2 linked regions of the Homo sapiens genome follow. The protein of the gene in region 1 interacts with the protein of each later gene in a biochemical or structural test. Each region holds a gene or a part of one and is shown on either strand. Other genes may lie near its edges.

What was found. Proteins that work in one complex are often made in the same cells at the same time.
Region 2: the proteins of KAT8 (region 1) and MSL3 form a complex in vitro, tested with the Homo sapiens proteins (one study listed by BioGRID).

What each region holds. Positions count from the first base shown.
Region 1 is NC_000016.10:31,127,544-31,131,291, forward strand, and holds part of KAT8 (histone acetyltransferase KAT8), read left to right. Parts: intron 1-506; coding exon 507-596; intron 597-2,473; coding exon 2,474-2,614; intron 2,615-2,723; coding exon 2,724-2,817; intron 2,818-2,912; coding exon 2,913-3,063; intron 3,064-3,202; coding exon 3,203-3,357; coding exon of another isoform or gene 3,358-3,449; exon of another isoform or gene 3,450-3,651; coding exon 3,652-3,716; 3' UTR 3,717-3,748.
Region 2 is NC_000023.11:11,761,198-11,764,945, reverse strand, and holds part of MSL3 (MSL complex subunit 3), read right to left. Parts: intron 3,447-3,748; coding exon 3,364-3,446; intron 2,817-3,363; coding exon 2,694-2,816; intron 2,110-2,693; coding exon 1,949-2,109; intron 1,167-1,948; coding exon 1,008-1,166; intron 1-1,007. UniProt on the Homo sapiens protein: Non-catalytic component of the MSL histone acetyltransferase complex, a multiprotein complex that mediates the majority of histone H4 acetylation at 'Lys-16' (H4K16ac), an epigenetic mark that prevents chromatin compaction.

The DNA of each region.
Region 1 (3,748 bases):
ACCTTGCCAACTTCAGACCTCAGCTCCTCTTCTCTGGAATGGGGACAGTAACTCACCCCCTTCAGGTCTTTTGCCAAGGCCAGCTCCATCCCAGGAAGCACACATAGCCCCTGGCAGTGGGACCTTAAGTGTGGATGAAATTGGGGGCTGTCAGGAAGGGGCGCTCTCATCACTGACACAGTGGGCTGCTTCCCGAAGTGTGGAATCTGAAGCGAATAGGTGTGGTTTAGGGAAGCCATTGTCATGGACGGGTCCCTCCAGAGCCAGGCCCACAGAGACTCAAAACCCCACCGTGCTGTGTGATGTTTGGATCTCTGTGCCTGGGCCTTGGTCTGTAAAAGCAGGATCACTTTCCTAAGGCTGCTGGGAGGATTACTCGATGTAGGTGAAGTGTTGAGGGGGGAAACAGAGAGGCAGAGACTTGCTCCAAAGCATGCAGTGGTGGGTTGGGTGCCTCCTAGCAGAGAACATATGGGCAGCGAACCTGTTCTCTTGTCCCCGACCAGGGTCAGTGCCAGTGGCGGCAGCCCCCCGGGAAAGAGATCTACCGCAAGAGCAACATCTCCGTGTACGAAGTTGATGGCAAAGACCATAAGGTGAGTGGGTGGCCAGGGGTTGGGAGAGGCCGGGGAGGCCCTGGGCACCTCCCAGATGATCCTCATCACCACCAAAGGGGAGGGGGCAGCCTTAGCTGAGCCTCTATGGGCAGAATGCCTCTGAGGGGCCGGGCACTGCAGCTCACACCTGTAATCCTAGCACTTTTGGAGGCTGAGGTGGGCAGATTGCCTGAGCTCAGGAGTTTGAGAGCAGCCTGGGTAACATGACGAAACTCCTCGACTAAAAATACAAAAAATTAGCTGGCGTGGTGGTGCGCACCTGTAATCCCAGCTACTCGGGAGGCTGAGGCACAAGAATTGCTTGAACCTGGGAGGCAGAGGTTGCAGTGAGCTGAGATTGTGCCACTGTACTCCAGCCTGGTCGTCAGATTGAGAATCTGTCTCAAAAAAAAAAAAGAAGGCCTCTGAGGGCCTCCTAGCCTGGCACTAGGCCTGTAGTTGGTGCATAGGAAACACAGGGCCTTGTGGTGGCCCCAAGACTCTTCTGCTGGTGGGGTTAGGTTCAAACTTGGGTTGTTCTGGAACCCAGAGGAGATTTTCTTGCCTGAGGCTGCTTTTAGAAGTGCTCTCTCCTTCCGTTGGAAAGAAAGGTGTTTGTTTTTGCCTGGGAGGGGACTGCTTTGTGTGAAATTTCCTCCTGAGAGAGCTCTGTGGCTTTCAAGGTTTGAGTTCCTTGTTCCTGGCCCCGAATGACTTCAGCAGGGCAGGTTGGGGCCTTTGGGACCTGCCTAGCTGTTGTAGAGAACTTGGCCTTTGCCTTATCAGTCTGGGAGGGTCTGGCCAAGTGTACTGGTTTCCCGCAGATGGGCCATACAGCACAGGACAGAGAGGGCAGGCTTCAGGGTGGCTCATGTTGCCTTGTCACTTCCTCACTGACCACAGACAAGTTACTTAACATGGTTTGTTCCTGTTTCCTTGTCCATAAGACGGGAGTCATAATATTTAATATTTACCTAGTTGTGTTGTTAGTGGAATAAATGAGACAGCAAATGTCAAGTGTTTAGTGCAGTGCTTAGCACTAGTATGTGCTTAATAAACACGGGCCTTGTTATTATCGGTGACCTCTTGGGGCTTGATTAGCCTTGGACTCGGAGAATACGCAGGCTGAGCCCAGCCCTTGCCCCTGCTCTGCCTTCCTGAGCATGGCTGTGTGGAATAGCAGAAGGGCCCCCGCTGGAGATGTGGGGGTGCTTTCCAACTGCGCTCTGCCAGCTTTGAGGCTCTGGGCAAGCACTTCCACTCTGGGAGCTTCAGCTTCCTCCTGAGTAAGATGGGCCTGGCAGTGCTGGGCTCGCACAGCTGCCGGGTTGGATGAGAGAGTGGCTGTGGTGTCATAAACCAGGGAGCCCCTTAGTGTGTGCCGTGAAGCCAAACTCGGTCCCATTGTCCCCCTCCTGGAGTGCAGCCAAGTGGACAGACAGGGCTCGAGGTTCCTCCATTCAGCAGACGTTTACCAGGCACCCAGCTTCATACTTAGACTCGTGCTAGGCGCTGGGGACACAGCCATGAACAGGACGGTCTAAATTCCTGCCTCGGAGCCTCAGTTTCACGAGCTGAAACAGAGTTAATGTCTGTGAAGACTGAAGCAGATCCTGCATGGAAGGCACCCAGCTCGTATTTGGCACTCAGAAGGGGTGGCCGGGCTTCATCCAGCTCCACTGGCACCTCCGAAGTGCTGTTGCTCTCTCATTTCCAGTTCCCTGTTCGTCAGAGGCTGACCGAAGACTCCTTCCAGTGTGAAATCCTTCTGGCCTGGCGAGGCGCCCACTTCGCGTGGGCTGGTGCCGGCCGCTGGAACCAGCTGGGTGGGGCCTGTGCCTGCCCCCTGAGCCTGTCTCCCCCCTCCTCAACCCTAGATTTACTGTCAGAACCTGTGTCTGCTGGCCAAGCTTTTCCTGGACCATAAGACACTGTACTTTGACGTGGAGCCGTTCGTCTTTTACATCCTGACTGAGGTGGACCGGCAGGGGGCCCACATTGTTGGCTACTTCTCCAAGGTGCTGGGTCTGGAAACTCGGGGTGGGGAGGGTGGGGAGGGCGAAGGTGGGCATGAACAGAGAGTGGGGCAGAGCCTCCCCAGCGGCCCTGAGCACCTGCCTCCTGCAGGAGAAGGAGTCCCCGGATGGAAACAATGTGGCCTGCATCCTGACCTTGCCCCCCTACCAACGCCGCGGCTACGGGAAGTTCCTCATCGCTTTCAGTGAGTGGTTCCTGGCCTGTCTGGGAGGGGGAGACCTGTGGGGCAGGGGTGCCAGGGCAGGCTGGATCCTAAGTTCCTCTTTCTACTGCTGCCAGGTTATGAGCTCTCCAAGCTGGAGAGCACAGTCGGCTCCCCGGAGAAGCCACTGTCTGACCTGGGCAAGCTCAGCTACCGCAGCTACTGGTCCTGGGTGCTGCTAGAGATCCTGCGGGACTTCCGGGGCACACTGTCCATCAAGGACCTCAGGTGAGGGGGCCTCCCGGGCCCTGGGGGCAGGACTTGCCCTGAGATGGGCCACGATCCTGCTTCCTCATACCCTGTCACCATCCTGGCCAGATCCCACAAGGGCACCAGGTCTGGCATTTGCTCTCATCCCTTTTTGCAGCCAGATGACCAGTATCACCCAAAATGACATCATCAGTACCCTGCAATCCCTCAATATGGTCAAGTACTGGAAGGGCCAGCACGTGATCTGTGTCACACCCAAGCTGGTGGAGGAGCACCTCAAAAGTGCCCAGTATAAGAAACCACCCATCACAGGTGGGTGGGGGGCTGCTGTGTGTCGGGGGCGGTGGGGGAGTGTCAGTATATGGACTGGTAGGAGTCAAGGCCTCCTTATTGCTGTCACATGATCCCAAACCAGTCAGACCAGCTCCCAGGATGGAGCCCGGGGCAGGCCTCTCATTCCTGGGCTTCCCTACCCCTCCCCAGCACAGCCTGCCCTTTTGTTCTCACCTGGAGGAGGTGAAACTGGCCTGAGCCCAGAGGAGGGCAGCCAGGTGTGAGCTGGCCTGGCCCAGGCCCAGCCCTGCCTCCCGCCCCTTCTCCCCACAGTGGACTCCGTCTGCCTCAAGTGGGCACCCCCCAAGCACAAGCAAGTCAAGCTCTCCAAGAAGTGAGCAGCCTGGCCCCTGCTGTCGGACCTGAGCCT
Region 2 (3,748 bases), on another chromosome or scaffold:
TCAAGGTTTGAAGTAGGCCCTGGGGACTTTGACATAGGTCCCCAGTGAGTCCTGCAGGCCTCTCACCTGGGGTGAAACTGACATGGGGAAAGGGAAAGGAGAGAGAGAAGCTACCAAAGGAAGGATGGCTGAGAGGAGATGGCGGCCAGGCGGAAAGAGAAGCTGGGGAGCTGACAGCCATGAAGCAGAGGGAGAAAGGGAGGGCAGGGCAAGGTGGCCGAGAAAAAGGGCAGCACACTGCAAGTGGGAGGTTATCAGTTCACGTGCAGGCAAAGTTTTGCAGCACAGCAGTAGATGAAGGCAGATAATAAGTGGTTAACAGAGGAGACAGATGAGTGGAAATCATGAGAACAGACCACTCTCTCAGGAAGAGAGGGAAGAGGGAGCGAGCACAATACCTTATAGAGATTAAGGGAAAGACTTTAGGTTGCAGGATCCCCCTCCCTGCCCCCTCAAAAAAGAACAGAGCATGCTCGGTAACTGAGGGAGGAAAAGTGGTGACATCGCAGAGCAAGAAGAGAAGTAACTTTTACTGAAGGCCAAAGTTTGCAGGCCCTGTGTGAACATTCCCATTTAATACTACTAGCTAGGCCTGCCTTCCGTCCATCCCACACCTGCAAAAGAAGGAGGCTCCTAAGAAACCTCTGCAACTAACACAAACAGCCAGTGAGGGGACTCAATTCAAACCTGCCCCTTCCACCCTCCCCGGCCTGTGCTCTCTTCACCCCACCCACTACCGTCTTCCCCAAAATGGGAGAGCTGCTCATCATCCCACCTAAGTTCTCTATGCTGGGGTCTTCACTTGGTAAAATCTGCCAGAGCCATATGAAAGTGAATGATGACTTAGCTTACCCAGGAAAAAAGAAAACCACCAGGACACACACTTTTCATTTCCTTCCCTCCTCCAAACATGTTGGCCCACACCATCAGATTGAACTCTTCAAAACAAGGATCTGATCATTGTACTGCTGACATGTGAGGGTGAAAGTGCAGGCTATATAACTTACCTGTTAGTGCTTGTGGCACTTTCCTTAATTGGAAGAAAAAATTTAGACGAAGTCACCTTTTTATACTGAGCTTGTTCATATGGATAGAGTAAAACCAACGGGAGAGTGTAATCAAAGGTTATTCTTAATCCATCCACCATCTCCTTACAAAGGTCAACACTGGGAGGATTAAAAAGAAGAGATTAGAGACACAAGTAAGAGGTACTTTCCAAATGTTCACAATGAAGTTGCCGATTTTTAATAGGGCAGTTTTAAATCTAATCATTATATACTACACCTACATACACACAAAATGAAATGGATTTGTAGCTACTGTCAAGATTACATAGGAAAACATAAAGTGCAGAAAATACAGCAGTCACTTTAACTTACCCCATTAAACACAAATAAATATGTTTGAGGCCACACGAGGTGTCCAGCAGCCTGTGCTGCAAAAGTGGACAGGTGGACACACCCCTATCACTGCAAGCTGAAACGGGTTGACCCTAGTGAATCCCTAACCCTTGCTTTAACTCCAACACTCCACCTTTCTGCCTCTCATCTAGCTGGGTCATGTGTACCAGGCAGGATACAAGGAAGCTTTCTCTGACTGGAATGAAAACCTGTTTGTAAACAAGCTTTGAGAAATCCTCACTGCCCATTCTGGTGCTTCTCAAGGAAAGTTCTCGCCCTAAACAGTATCACTGAAAAAACTGTCTCAGTGCTGAGGCAGTGCACTTTCAATGCATCCATGTAAGATGTGTAAATAGTTATTGAAGTACTGAAGATTTCACAAAAGTGACAAGGTTTTAATATTAGATGATTCAATGAATTATCAATAAATTATTAAATATTAAATGAATTCAAAATAACGGAATAGAGACAAGTGTCACCTGTTCTAAATGGAAGCCACCTCTCTAATACAGAGAGAACCACAAAACACCAAACATGCCAGTACTCACTTCTTTTCTGCTGGGATATAATGCACGTTCATGTTGGCATGTGGCATAACGTGATGGTGACGAGGCCTCTCATTGGCTGAAAAGGCTGCATTGATAGCAAAATGCTTCACATAGGATTCCAAAATCGTTATGATGTTGGTCTGGCATGGAAGTTTCACTAACTGTTAACAAAAACATAGACATCTGATGTATGCATCCTAATGTAACAAACCACATATTCCAAGAAACACTGGTCATGTCTGTATCATTTTTTAACTCAAAAATAAACCAAAGCCAATTCTGTTTGAATAGAACTTCTTAAATATGTTCGCAATCTCTTTGATCTTTTTTTCTCTACTGATCATAACCTTATGTAGATTACAATATTACTTTTTTGAATAGATGTAAGCAGTGATTCTTAATCTCAGTGATCTGTGAGAACAACCTGGGGAACTTCTTCAAGTATACCTGCAGTTGGACTCCACCACAGATCAATTAATTCTTAATTTCTGGGCTGAAGCACAAGCAGCAGCATTCTGGAAAGCTCCCAACACAACCCTAATGGGCAGCCAGAGCTGTGTGAGTTTCAATTTTTATCAGCTGCACAGCACCACTGGCAGAGAACTTTAAAACCTGACTCAATACAAAGCTGAAAAATATAAATTTCGTTCCACCAAGATTCGCTATTGCTTACGTCTATGATTGCAAACTATGGCAAAATGAAAATGCCAAACAAATTAATGTTTTATACATTCTCCCTACATACCCGTTTCCTCCTGTTAATGTAGTAACAATCATCCTCCAGCTGCTTCTTCAGAACTTCAGGGATTTCTATAGTTATTGTTCTTTCTTCCATTTCCCTTCTTGTTTGAAGCTCTGGTTCTTCTTTCTGCAATATCAAAATTCCATTTTTAACTATTTAAAACAGTAGAAGAGTCAATATCCAAGGAAGGCCTGCTATGAAACAAACCCAGCTAATCCTCAACAATCATAGTATGCCACGTGTTCTAATTAAAAGTATGTTAAAGGCCAAAAGTTAACTTGTTTGGGGGCACTAAACACAATGCAAATATGTATTTCATTTCTTTCCCATTTCAGTTTACCACTCGGATTTATATTAACTTTGGATGCAGGCAGAAGACATCACAGTCTGTAGGCTCCATTAAAAAATTAATCATTATAAAACAAATAATTTGACTGGAAAGAAAGATAACTATAATTTGTGGAAACATTTTAGGGGCATAAAGAGCCACTGAGAGACTCATACGGCGACTATAAATAAGGGTTGTTTTTCTTTAAATGTCAAATAAAAATTTACATTATTGGTTTAAAAGATGTATCTTTAGAAAACAATTCACAACTGGAGTATTTCACTGTGAATTTTTACCACTAAAATATATAACAAAGAGAAAGTTTTTACAATAAAAACTTTATACCACTTCAGTCTTTTCTTCAATATCACTTTCTTCACTTATTTCTTCATCCTTGTTTTCACTACAGTCAGAGGAACTGCTTAATGCTAGGTGAAACAAAAGCATCCGGTAAACTCGCATTTTATACTTCACCAACCCTTATGTCTACAGATCTTCACGTGTAGTGTGGGTGCTACTGGAAATAATAAACTGCAATTCCATGTATTTTTAAATGCCAAACACAAATACTGTATCTTTCACAATAGAAATTTATTTTGACAACCAATTTCAATGGATGCAAAAATCACACTAGCTAATGATCGGAAAGTGTATTGTCAGTTAGGATCCTACAGTTTCCTGTTGCATTCATAAATGGGACCAAGGCCTGGGAGGTGCCAAAAAGAGAACA